4 linked regions of the Homo sapiens genome follow. The protein of the gene in region 3 purifies or fractionates together with the protein of the main gene of each other region. This does not show direct contact. Each region holds a gene or a part of one and is shown on either strand. Other genes may lie near its edges.

Region 1 (2,558 bases), on a different chromosome or scaffold from region 3:
GAGCTGAAGGTCATCAGTGCCCCCTTCCCAGCTGGGCACATGGTGGGGCAGTCAGGTGATGAGCCGGAGAAGGTTTGGGCTGGAAATGTGTGTGGGGAGGTGTATGAACGTGAACATCTGCTACTTGTTTACAAGGGATGTGAGGCCTGGGAGGGGTTAGGAATTAAGGAATCTCTTGGTGCCTTCTGGGGTGGGGAGGGGCTGTTTTCAGGAACAAGGAGATTCCCCATCCCTGTCCTGGAGTATCCTCATAGATACTTCCACCCAGCCTTGGCCCCTTTGGGAGGAATTAAAGGTGTAAAATCAGAGAGCTGGACCAGGATGGGTATTAATGGGGGCGGTGGGCTGCTCTCCCACTTCCCTCACCTGGGCCACCTGACAGGCACACAGCACCTTCCCCATGGGCTGGGGGCTGAGTAGGAGCACAGACGTGCTGGGGGCCTGCTCACACAGCTGCCGTACCACCTTCACCAGCACCTGGACCACGAAAGACAGATGGTGAGCCCATCGCTTCCCAGACCCCTAGCTGTCTCCTGGTCAGGACTTTGCCCTCCCCAGACCCTGGGGCAGCCCGGCTTGGCTAGCACTCACTGAGAGAGACTCAGCAGAGACTGTGTCCACAATCAGAGGCCCCTTCGAGTGCCGCTCCAGCAGCTCCTGAGTTTTCTTTGCAGCCTATGGGGCAGGAAGGACAAGCAGAGGGGTCAGGCTGAGAGGCAGGTTTCCAATTAGCCCCAACTTCTGAACTAAGCCCCAGCTGAGCAATCCCCTGCTTCCCCCACCCACCCCAAAAGTCATTAGCTCTAGGCAGAGGTGGCAGGGACTCTGCCTAGGGTGGCCTCCTTTTTGGGTCCCACATGTGTCCTTCCTCACTTCCCTCACCACTTCCCTTTCATCATAGCTTCAGGCCCCTACAAATAGGTCGCTGAAGGTGAAAGGAGGAAGGTCAGAGCACAGATGGACCAGGAGTGGGCGGGAGAAAGGGGGATCCACAGTGGAGGTGCAATCAGGGCTGAATGGCACTAATCAAGTCAGTAGGCTTCCGGGGGTTCTGAGCCAGACTTGGGAGTTGGGGGAGAAACACAGTTTGAAAGAGACAGAAGTGGGGGAATGGCCTGGGTGATGGTTCTCAGCTGGCAGGAGAAGGAAGCTGCCACCACCCCGTCCTTGCACAGCCTCTGACTCACCCCCATGCCCCAGCCCTTGAGACTTCTCAGTGTATCTGCTGGAGTGTCTCTGGGCACATGGGTGCAGCCAAACCTCCTCTCACCTGTCCCATTTGCAGCTTACGGATGGCAGTGTTGGCACGCCGCTGCAGCATCTTCACTGTGGCCAGCAGCTCCCGCCGCTGCCACTGGGGCATCACAGCAGTTTCCACAGCCTATGGCCAGAAGCAGTACATCACCCCTGCCCTTCCCTGAGCCATAGTCTCTGAGGTAGGGACCAGCAGGGCCAGGGAAGACACCCACCCTGCAGACAAATATCTGGGCCAGCTGGAGCCCAACCCAATTGGAGTGCTAGGGAGAGTCTGAAGGAGTCCAGGGAGGAATAGGGGAGGTAATAGGGCTAGGAGAGGGTGGGGTGGTAGGCGTGGCCCTCACTTCAATGAGTCGTCCTATGTCCTTGGACAGCCTCAGTGCCTCCGCCACATCCCGGCTCCCCAGACTCAGCCGCTCAGTGGCCGCTTTCACTTCCTGGGCCAGGCTCTGGCCTAGCTCTCGGGCCTGCAGGGAGGGGACAGGAGGGTCAGGATTACATTCATCTCCCCAGGACAAGGCCTCTCAACTCATTACTGGTCAGGGACAAATAAGATTTAACAATCAGGACCAATCAAGGCACCAGCACCAAATAATCAAAACACATGCCAGCTGCCAATAGCTGATATGGCCACATTGGTGTCCAAGTATGAACACTGGCTCTGCTGCTGGGCACCCCTGAGCCTGAGCATGTCACCTGCGTGTGTCCCATGCACCCACTCAACCCAGAAGTCCCAGGCCTACTGGCATGCTGACCTGCTGGGCCTGCTCCCCAGTGACGGCCAGCAGGCGGGTAGTGCCCTTGGAAAGCTGGCGGTCCCCGATGATAACCAGGTCCCCTACAGCCCCAGTACGTAACAGGTGCCTGTGGGAGGAAGGAGTGAACAGAAAGTCGGGGCATGACAGTAGAGAAGGGAGAAGCCAGCGTGCATCTCCCATTAAGGGCTGATGGCTCCAAAGACCAAGGGAAGGGCAAGGATCCGGGGCCCCTGGGCCAGGCAGCACAAAGGAGTGACTCACGTCCCACAGCATAGCTCCACAGAGGTCTGCAGTGCGGCTTGGGAGGCTGGGTCCAATGCATGGGCCACGGGCACCCCCACTGATACCACCCGCACAGGGTCTGGGTAAACCTGAGGTCAAGAGGGGACAGGCCCGTTAACTGCCAAAGGAGAAGGATAAAGCCTCCAGGTATGCCTGAAGGAGGCCCCCGATCTCCAGCAAAAGGGCTTCCCCAACTCACCTCATCCAGAGAGCGCAGGCCAGGGACCTGGGCAGTGAGCGCCAGGGGCACCTCCTCCATGT
Region 2 (3,335 bases), on a different chromosome or scaffold from region 3:
TGCTGGGATTACAGGCGTGAGCCACTGCACCCGACCTAAAGTTGCTTTCTCTTAAGCAGAGACCCTTTCGTGCCAGGTGCTCTCCTCCCTCAAAGCAGCAGTACAGCCAGAGAAAGCCAAATGGGTCTGAGTCTTTCAGGAAGCCAGGCCGACTTTTCAGATGCCTCTGAGACTTCCAGTTCTGGTTTTCACTGTTCACACGTGACACTTCACTCATGCTGCAGTTATGCTAAATCCAGTAACTACTAGAAGGTAGCTAAACAAATCTTTAATTCCTACTGTAAATATGCACATAATTAAAAGACATTTTCCTATTACAGGTTGAGTATCCCCAAATCTGAAAGGCTGCAAAATCTGAAACTTTCTGAGTGCCTACATGGTGCTCAAAGGAGATGCTCATTTAGAGCATTTTGGATTTTGGGATTGGGGATACTTAACCAGCAAATACAATGCAAATAGTCAAGCAGAGAATCTCTTTTCAGTCAATGAGGGGCCACATATTAGAACACAGTTTGCACTGTACCTTTACTATGTTATGTTCAGATACACAGATACCATTGTGTTAACAGTTGCCTACAGTATCAGTACAGTAACGTGCCCTCCAGTCTAGAGCAACAGGCTACATACACCATATAGCCTAGGTGTGGAGGAGGCTCCACCACCTGTTTTTTAGGTCCATGTAGGTACACATGGTGTTCACAGGAAAAACTGCCTGACAGCGCATTTCTCAGAACACATCCCTGTGGTTAAGCCATGCTTGACTATATTCCAAAATCCGAAAACCCCCCAAGTTTGAAACAATTCTGGTTCTAAGCATTTCAGATGATAACCAACTTATAGTGACTATGGATGACTGAAGCTTACTGTAAAAAAATATTTTGCTACTTAAGCTATATTGCCTCTAGGTTACGAGTTAAGTGCTTTTTAGCAACTGCAGCTGTAGTTGAGACGGTAGGAGACTGCAAACATTCACAGAAATGAGTTGATAAATTACTTTTCTTAGCCTCCATTTAACTCGGGAGCTCCAGGGGTGATGATGCACTCACAACCCCACAGCGTGAAAACAGGCAGCGCTGGAGCTCCCAGTCATGTTTTCTTCAATACACGATGCTGCCTTTAGTTGTTTCTGACCAAATTAACTTAAGGCATCTTAAAGGTGGAACATGTTTGGGAATGGTATCCCAAGATGAAGTATTATGGGACCATTACTTGCGTCTTTTAAAATTAGAAGTGAAATAAACTGCCCCATCTTTCCTGTGCAGCAAATGGCTTTCACAAGTATCTTCCATTCTAGAAGCAAAGGCAGCGAAAGGTTCTTTTCTCTTTTTTGTAACAGACGCCAATCATTCAGCCTTTTTCTAAGCCCTGGATGACCGTGTAAATGAGGAACAGCCCTTTGGCAAGATGATTTTGCAAATCCTGTGCCCTTGCTGTGGCTCCTGGGTGTTTCGTATTCTTACCGGACGGGCTGCAGCTGCACTGGGGGAGTGTGGCTCTCCCTTTCTGTGTAGAAGCCTGTATATGTGTGTACGTGAATGTGCACGCACGCACGTGTCAAGCTGACAGCTTCTGGGCTGGAGTAGAGAATGGGAAGGCTAAGCCATGCTTGCCTCAGCGGCAAGGATCTCCATGAGAGGACACAAAATTGTTTTCAGAAAGTAGGAAAATAAACATTAGGGCTTTAATCCTCTTAAATAAAAATTTTAAATTAAACATTAACATTTAAAGTACACCAAGCGTGCAGTCCTATTTTGAGAAAGTCCATTTTGCCAGGGAATACAACTTGAGGTCATTAGTAACTAGTTGAATATGATTTAAATATGTCTGCATTTAGATGAACAGAACAGGGTAAAAGGAACTTTGCCAAGCCAAGCTCAATTCCTGGCCAAATAATGGGGGAGAACTGTCAGTGCCCACACCCATTTCTCAGTGGTCAGTTTCAGCCGCTGTTGACTGAAGACAAACGAACTCACTATGTTCTTCACAAAGATCATTTTTTTTAAGTAAGAAAAATGTTTCAACTCTCTTGCCTTTCCTTCAGCGAATGAAATGTGACGGGCTAAATACGCCAGTCACTCATGCGCCGCAGGGACACATGGTGCAGACTGGCGTGCCCAGGTAGCCAAACAGAATTCCCCAAGACCTTTTATTTGTTTAAAATACTTTGGTGTCAGCAGAGTCTGAGCAGACACGTTACTCATGATGCTCGGGAGACCAGGCAGGGCCCTGCTGAGCTCTTCTGAAAGTATGTGGAACTATTCAACGCGTGGCACTAAAAGGGAACAGACTCCCGAATTAGAGTTCATTAATGCAGTTGGGCAACCGGCTTTTCTGTTTAGCCACTGGTTACTTAAGGTTTCCAATAAGGTTTGGGAAAAGGTCACACGTACTCATAGATGAGAAACAATGAACCAGCCTTGAGAGTTACATCAAGTGAGTTTAAAAACACCCACCCCATCAACAGCAGCTAAGCTTCCTTCACCACCCCCACCAGGGCGGGTCTCAGAGTGCGCCCATGCAGCTTGTACCCCACTTTGCTAACTAGGGCCACTGTGCCTGGCTCCTTCCCCTCAACCGGTGTGTGGAACAAGGCCTCATGTTCATAAGGGTCGAACTTGGCTCCGACAGGGTTCAACTTGAGCAAGCCATGCTTTGTGAACACCTTCTGGATCTGGACTTCAGTCATGACCAGCCCCTCATAGAGGTTCTTCAGGTGAGGGTTATCGTCTTTAATTTCTTCTTTTGGAACACACTGTGTTGCCTTCTCCAGAACGTCTGCCACCTCCAACAAGTCCTTGCAGAAGGCTTGAATGCCTGGATGAAGTTAAAGAAGATCATTTGCACTCCATACCAACCGCACAGGGCAATTCCAAACTGAGCACTGCTGACCTGATGTGGAGGCTATTTAGTAACTTGTCAAATCAATCGCCTCAGAATTCCAATGGCTCAATAACTTTAAAAAACAACACAAAACTCTCAAAAGCTACTTGTGGGATGAGACCCAGAATTTACTAAATTTAGAATTCACTAAAATGTGAAGAAAGGAGTGCAGTAGAGGGGAAAATACCCTTGAGACATCCAAGCCCAGATGTCAAGCAAGCAGTAAGATTTAGGGGACTGGAACTCGGAAGATCCGAGTTTGAAGCTGAGACTTGTGTGTGGATGCCACTAAGCCCGTAAGAGTATGTAAGTCACCCAGGGAGCACAGCAAGGGGAGAGAAGAGGTCTGGTACTGAGTCCCAAGAGCCCAGGCATTTACAGGTCGGAAAGGGTAAGAACCAACAAAGCACATTACCACAAAGAGAGGCGGAATACCAAGAAACAGGCCACAGTAT
Region 3 (3,500 bases):
CCCTGTGTGTTTCCTCTTCTGATCTTGCTTTCTTATGACCTTGGTCCATTTCCCAGTTGTCTTGTTGCCTGCATAATTCTAAGCCTGAAGCCTAGGAGAGGTCTGAATCCGATGTCTCCATAACTCTGGGTTCCTTCTCCCACAGGTGGATGAAACTCAGTTTAAGAAGATCCTCGGCTACATCAACACGGGGAAGCAAGAGGGGGCGAAGCTGCTGTGTGGTGGGGGCATTGCTGCTGACCGTGGTTACTTCATCCAGCCCACTGTGTTTGGAGATGTGCAGGATGGCATGACCATCGCCAAGGAGGAGGTGAGCACTTGGGGCCAGTGCTCTGGAAACATTCTTGGCGGGAGGTGAGGTAAACAGTTCAGCCTGGCATCCTGATGCTGTCACCCATCTGCTGGCTTGGGGCCAGATCTCAAGTTATACCCAGAACCAGTGCCCATAACACGCTATTCATAGTATGTATCTGATCTTGTCCCTCCTCTTCAGCTTGTACCCTCTGTCTGGGAGATCGTCTGCATTCCTCAGCATGGCCTGCAGGCCTTGGTGTCCTGGCCCTCAGAGCCAGGAGTCTAGGAATGACATTGTCTGCTCCTTCCCATGACCTTTTTTCTTTCAGTCAGATTCTTGCTCTGTTGCCCAGGCTGGAGTGCAGTGGCATAATCATGGCTCCTTATAGCCTTGAACTCTTGGGCTCAAATGATCCTCCCACCTCAGCCTTCTGAGTAGCTGGGACTACAGGTGCTCACCACCATGCCTGGCTAATTTTAAAAAAATTTTTTAGTACAGGCTGGGTGCAGTTGCTCACGCCTGTAATCCCAACACTTTGGGAGGCCGAAGTGGGTGGATCACCTGAGGTCATGAGTTCGAGACCAGCCTGGCCAACATGGCAAAACCCTGTCTGTATTAAAAATAAGAAAAAATTAGCCCTGCGTGGTGGCGCTTGCTTGAAATCCCAGCTACTCTGGAGGCTGAGGCAGGAGAATCGCTTGAACCTGGGAGGCAGAGGTTTCAGTGAGCCGAGATCGCGCCACTGCACTCCAGCCTAGGCAACAGAGCGGGACTCTGTCTCCAGTTTTAGCCACGCCTGGCTAATTTTTGTATTTTTAGTAAAGACAGGGTTTCACCATGTTGATCAGACTAGTCTCGAACTCCTGACTTCGTGATCTGCCTGCCTCGGCCTCCCAAAGTGCTGGGATTACAGGCATGAGCCACCACGCCCGGCTTATTTTTTCTCTTCTCGTTTTGAGATGGAGTCTCACTCTGTCGCCAGGCTGGAGTGCAGTGGTGCAATCTCAGCTCACTGCAACCTCTGCCTCCCGGGTTCAAGCGATTCTCCTGCCTCAGACCCTACTAGTAGCTGGGATTACAGGCGCACACCACCACGCCCAGCTAATTTTTCTTATTTTCAGTAGAGATGGGGTTTCACCATGTTGGCCAGGCTTGTCTCCAACTCCTGACCTCAGGTGATCCACCTGCCTCAGCCTCCCAAAATGCTGGGATTACAGGTGTGAGCCATCGTGCCTGGCCAAAAATTTTTTTTTTTTTTTTGAGTAAAGACAGGGTCTCTCTGTGTTTGCCAGGCTGGACTCGAACTCCTAGACTCAAGCAGTTCTCCCACCTTGGCCTCCCAAAGTGCTGGGATTACAGGCATGAGCCACAATGCCCAGCTGACTTAAATTCTTTGACACTAAATCTACGTGTCACGTGTGAATAACATACCTGGCAGGATTGTTTAGAAATGGGATACTGTATGTAAAGCCCGGGGCGCACAGGAGGAAGTTGGCCCCTGTTAGCTCCATTCCCTCTGTGTTCTGCTGAGCTTGATGGCTGTTGTCTTCCCCTGGAACTGTTAGAGCATGGCTGGGGGCTTATCCCCCAATCTGGAATCATCTGTTCTGCTCTGAGAGAGCTCGATGGCAGGTGCCTCCGTGTTGCCGAACCCTCCTACGCTGCTCTCTCACTCCAGATCTTCGGGCCAGTGATGCAGATCCTGAAGTTCAAGACCATAGAGGAGGTTGTTGGGAGAGCCAACAATTCCACGTACGGGCTGGCCGCAGCTGTCTTCACAAAGGATTTGGACAAGGCCAATTACCTGTCCCAGGCCCTCCAGGCGGGCACTGTGTGGTAAGAGCCTCCCAGCAGCCCCTCACAACCCAACAGAGATTCCTCAAAGCCAGGGCCTACTGGAATCTGGTGGTCACCATCCTGGAATTTGGGGAGCTGGGCTCAGTTTCTCCTGGGTCAGGGTGTGATGTCGATTTGAGAGGTCCTGCTACCTCACCTCCGAAGGATCAAGCTTCTCTGTGGTGCAAAGGCCCTGCACCTGAACTTGGCAGGCAGCGGAGTGGTGGGGCTCCTCCCCAGCTGCCTCAGGGCAGGAGACCAGAGCAGAGGGACCCATGATTGTGACACTGATCCTAAAAGCTTAGCCTCTGCTTCACACTTAGCCCCCACTAGGATGGCTATATTTTTATTATTTATTTATTTTTAGTTTTATTTTTTCAGACAGAAAAAAATATTCTACCCAGGCTGAAGTGCTGTGGGGTGCGATTATAGCTCACTGCAGCCTTGAACTCCTGGGCTCAAGCAATCCTCCCACCTCTGCCTCCTGAGTAGCTGGGACCACAGGTGTGTACCACCACACCTGGACAATTAAAAAACATTTTTATTTTTTGTAGAGATGAGATCTCGCCATGTTGCCCAGGCTGGGCTATATGTATATATATTTTAAAGTATTGGTAAGGATGTGGAGAAATCGGAACCCTCCTATGTTGCTGATGGGAATGGAAAATGGCACACTCATTGTGGAAAATAATTTGGGAGCTCCTCAAAAAGTTAAACATGAAGCCCCCATATGACCCAGCAATTCCACTCCTAGGTATTTATCCAAGAGAAAGAAAAACGTGCTCCCACATAAAAACGTGTATATGAATCTTCACAGCAGCATTATTTGTAACAGCCAAAAGGTGAACACAACCCAAATGTCCGTCTGTAGATGAATGGATACAGAATGTGATCTGTCCATGCAATGAAATGTGGCTCAGCCACAGAAAGGAATGAAGTAGCTGTATGAGTCTGTTCTCACACTGCTGGTAAAGACATTGCAGAGACCGGGTAATTTATAAAGGAAAGAGGTTTAATGGACTCACACAGTTCCACGTGGCTGGGGAGGCCTCACAATCATGGTGAAAGGTGAAAAGCATGTCTCACGTGGTGGCAGACAAGAGAAGAGAACTTGTGCAGGGAAACTCCCCTTTATAAAACCATCAGATCTTGTGAGACTTACTCACTGTCACAAGAATAGCATGGGAAAGACCTGGCCCCATGATTCAATTACCTCCCACAACACGTGGGAATTGTGGGAGCTACAATTCAAGATGAGATTTGGGTGGGGACAAAGCCAAGCCATATCAGTAGCCATGCATGCAATAGCATGGATTAATCTTGAACATAACATTGAGTGAAAGAACCCAGACTGTCTGGGTGCGGTGGC
Region 4 (2,993 bases), on a different chromosome or scaffold from region 3:
GAAGGAAGAGATGGTTCCATTCAGCTCACCTCATGACTAGTGAGAGATAGGGCAAATAGCTCCCTAAAGCTCTCTGCTCTGAGTTGCAGTCCTTTCAGAGTGACCAGGTCCCACCACAGGTGTTTGGAGCTAAAAGGTTCTGCTGGGAGACTCCCCAAGCAGCTTTCCTGTCTCCAGCTGCACTTTGGATACTATGCATCTTGGTTGTGTGGCTGTGACTCCTGCTTAGTGATTATGTTCTTGTATAGAGTATTGTCAGTTTGGGTTGCTGTATTTTCCTGTATTTGTCCTGTATCTCCTAGAGGGCAAAAGCCATAATTGCTATTTCCTTTGTAACTCCCAAAGAGTTAGGCATAACATTTAGCATAAAATGAGGACTCAATTACTACTGATGGTTGCCCAATTGTAATTGGTAAATTGGCAAAAAGTGGTGGTTTTTAATGGTCAATAAAGGTACCATGTATCTAGTCTTAGGAAACAAAAGGTTTATTGAAATGCATGTAGATAAATTATCATCAGCATAAAACTGTTATGGAGTTTTCAACATGGGGTCTTTTGCTCTTAAAATGAAGTGAAGCTTTGCAAGTCCATTGTCCAATAGGAAAAATATTATATCTCTCTGTTCAGATAAAGTCCTTTAAAAAAGTAAATCTCTTTTGAAACGGTCTTTTAAACGTCTCCAGCCTGTGAATATATAACAAAACAAAAACCATATTAAAAAGACATAATTTTCTCCATTTAAAAAGAAGAATTAAATAGGAATGATTTAGGGGTAATAAACAAGGAAAATACCTGGGAATTTGAAACTCTAAAATGTTCTCCTATTTTATTAAGTACATACTAAAATATTTGATATAATGAAAATAATTTACGAAGACAAAATAAATGACAAGTGGTCATAAAAATGCAAATAAAGTCAATCATTTTATTATTATATATTTAGGAACAAAGTTGAAATGTTATCTCCTCAAATAAACAATTTTTAAATAACTCTGATATCAGTAATTTGGAAATACAGTCCTAAATGAGTTTTAATTTCCATTGAAGGCTAAATGTCCTTAATAGAAGACTTGAAATCAATAAATATAGTAAGAGAAAAAAGGAAGAAACTTTCAGAGAATTTCTGAAACTTTGTGGGTCAATAGAAGTTAGCAGTTAATTTTCTACAAATCATCCTCAGGGTAAAGTGAGTCATATTCTGTTTCCGCAGGGTGCTCTGGTCTGACCTGTTTGGCTCCCCCCAGGTGGTGTTGCTGTCCTTCTCCAATTGTGAGTCTGTTGAATGGGATTATCTTCATAGTGGTTTTCTTCATGGAATACCACCGGGTTTTCCAAGTGGCCCAAATAATGCCATTATCATAACCATTAGGAGTAGATGCTTTTGAGTAAGTGCCACCTAAAACAAGTCGTAGATGTACATATCATTATTCTGGAATCTTTTTACCTCTGCAAGTCTATGAAGAGCTGTCTATTACGAAGTGCATTGCCAGTTACATAAAATTTATAGTATTATCTGCTAACTGAAAATATCTCCAAAGATTCCTAAAATATCAATTTATAAAATAAACATATTATTAAACAACATCTGTGCTGTGACTCATAGTCACATCCACACTTTAAATTTATTCACTACTAGTAGGGCTAGAAACCCAAAGTTCCCTAATTGGCCTCTGTCCCTAAGCTTATCCATCCCGGACTCAGCTGCTGTGGACCATCTTTCTTCAGGCAGGTTAGAAGAGAAGGAGCCACAAAATTCCTGATGAGGTCAACTCAGGTTATTTGAAAGCACAATTTTGTTGGTTGATTGAGGAGCTTTAGGAAATGGTTCTGGCATGTTATTTTATGTCTCCATTTTAAAGTGCAGCCTCTGTTGATTTGCCTTCTCCTTGTCCTAGGGAAGCAGATCTCATGTAATTCTGTAAAAGGCTTGTCAGAGCACAACACTGGCATGAACTACAGCTCTGGCATGGCGCCCCGGGTCACACAGATCAAGCATTTTCCCTTAGAGTTTCTTCTCATTATGTGGTTTGTGAGTGCAAAGATAAGTTATGTTTCTCCAATTTAAAAATATTGTGAAAATCAAACTGTTACTTTAAATAAACTGTGCAAAGTTTCCTAGTTGGTGATTGGCTAGGACATCAGGAGGTAAGGTTGCTCATCTTGGTAGATGAGGAGACTATGGTTTGCTACAAGCCCGGAGTGGTTTGGAACACTGGTTTCACTCATCTACCCAGCAGATATGGTAGGGAAGTCCTACTGATGCTAAACAGGTCTGGTCTGACTGTTTGGCTTTCCCAGGGTGGTGTTGCTGTCCTTCTCCAACGGAGAGTCTGTTGAGTGGGATTATCTTCATAGTGGTTTTATTCATGGAATACCACTGGGATTTCCAAATAATGCCATTATTGTAACATGGATCCTTTAGCATCGGTAAGGCTTCCCCACACATAACTGCTGGGTAGGTGAGTGAAACCAGTGTTCCAAACCATTCCAAGCTTATAGCAAACTATAGCCTCCTCATCCAACCCCCATCCTAAAATAAGTGTCTACTGTCCTCAGACTGGTCTCTTCTCTCAAGCTTTCACAAACCCCTGCCCTTACCAGTGCTTGCCTTCTCTTTATTCTGTTCCTCCAAACACCTGTTCACTGCGTGTATCTGACACAAAGCTCATGGGAAGCCAGGTTAATGTGTCAACAAGCATCCATGTAGTAATGTTAATCCATCCAGATCATTTATGTTGTATGTCTAAAGGAGATCCCACAACCCACAGTGCCAGCTATGATGGTGATAGTTTCACATATAATGCCAAACTACTGGATATTTTGCAGCAGGTGGATTTCTTTAGAAGGGCTAATTTTAGGCATGAACTTGGTATTATCCACTTCCAGTTTCAAAGAACTTAGTTGAAATAAAGAACATGATAAAATCCCTACTATCTTTATAAATTATTCTTCATTTCTTCATATCTATTTATTATTTTTTATGAAAATAGTAT

The links.
Region 1: the proteins of ALDH2 (region 3) and AARS2 fractionate together in Homo sapiens (co-fractionation; one large-scale study listed by BioGRID). This does not show direct contact.
Region 2: the proteins of ALDH2 (region 3) and GRPEL1 fractionate together in Homo sapiens (co-fractionation; one large-scale study listed by BioGRID). This does not show direct contact.
Region 4: the proteins of ALDH2 (region 3) and FGG purify together in Homo sapiens (affinity purification with mass spectrometry; 3 studies listed by BioGRID and IntAct, with this or other methods). This does not show direct contact.

What each region holds. Positions count from the first base shown.
Region 1 is NC_000006.12:44,300,790-44,303,347, forward strand, and holds part of AARS2 (alanine--tRNA ligase, mitochondrial), read right to left. Parts: coding exon 2,497-2,558; intron 2,387-2,496; coding exon 2,277-2,386; intron 2,122-2,276; coding exon 2,013-2,121; intron 1,725-2,012; coding exon 1,602-1,724; intron 1,382-1,601; coding exon 1,271-1,381; intron 676-1,270; coding exon 592-675; intron 478-591; coding exon 367-477; intron 1-366. UniProt on the Homo sapiens protein: Catalyzes the attachment of alanine to tRNA(Ala) in a two-step reaction: alanine is first activated by ATP to form Ala-AMP and then transferred to the acceptor end of tRNA(Ala). Also edits incorrectly charged tRNA(Ala) via its editing domain.
Region 2 is NC_000004.12:7,058,395-7,061,729, forward strand, and holds the end of GRPEL1 (grpE protein homolog 1, mitochondrial precursor), read right to left. Parts: intron 2,815-3,335; coding exon 2,468-2,814; 3' UTR 501-2,467; downstream 1-500. UniProt on the Homo sapiens protein: Essential component of the PAM complex, a complex required for the translocation of transit peptide-containing proteins from the inner membrane into the mitochondrial matrix in an ATP-dependent manner.
Region 3 is NC_000012.12:111,797,933-111,801,432, forward strand, and holds part of ALDH2 (aldehyde dehydrogenase, mitochondrial isoform 1 precursor), read left to right. Parts: intron 1-145; coding exon 146-310; intron 311-1,901; exon of another isoform or gene 1,902-1,973; coding exon 1,974-2,131; intron 2,132-3,500. UniProt on the Homo sapiens protein: Required for clearance of cellular formaldehyde, a cytotoxic and carcinogenic metabolite that induces DNA damage.
Region 4 is NC_000004.12:154,603,671-154,606,663, forward strand, and holds the end of FGG (fibrinogen gamma chain isoform gamma-B precursor), read right to left. Parts: intron 1,397-2,993; coding exon 1,164-1,396; 3' UTR 685-1,163; coding exon of another isoform or gene 670-684; 3' UTR 501-669; downstream 1-500. UniProt on the Homo sapiens protein: Together with fibrinogen alpha (FGA) and fibrinogen beta (FGB), polymerizes to form an insoluble fibrin matrix. Has a major function in hemostasis as one of the primary components of blood clots.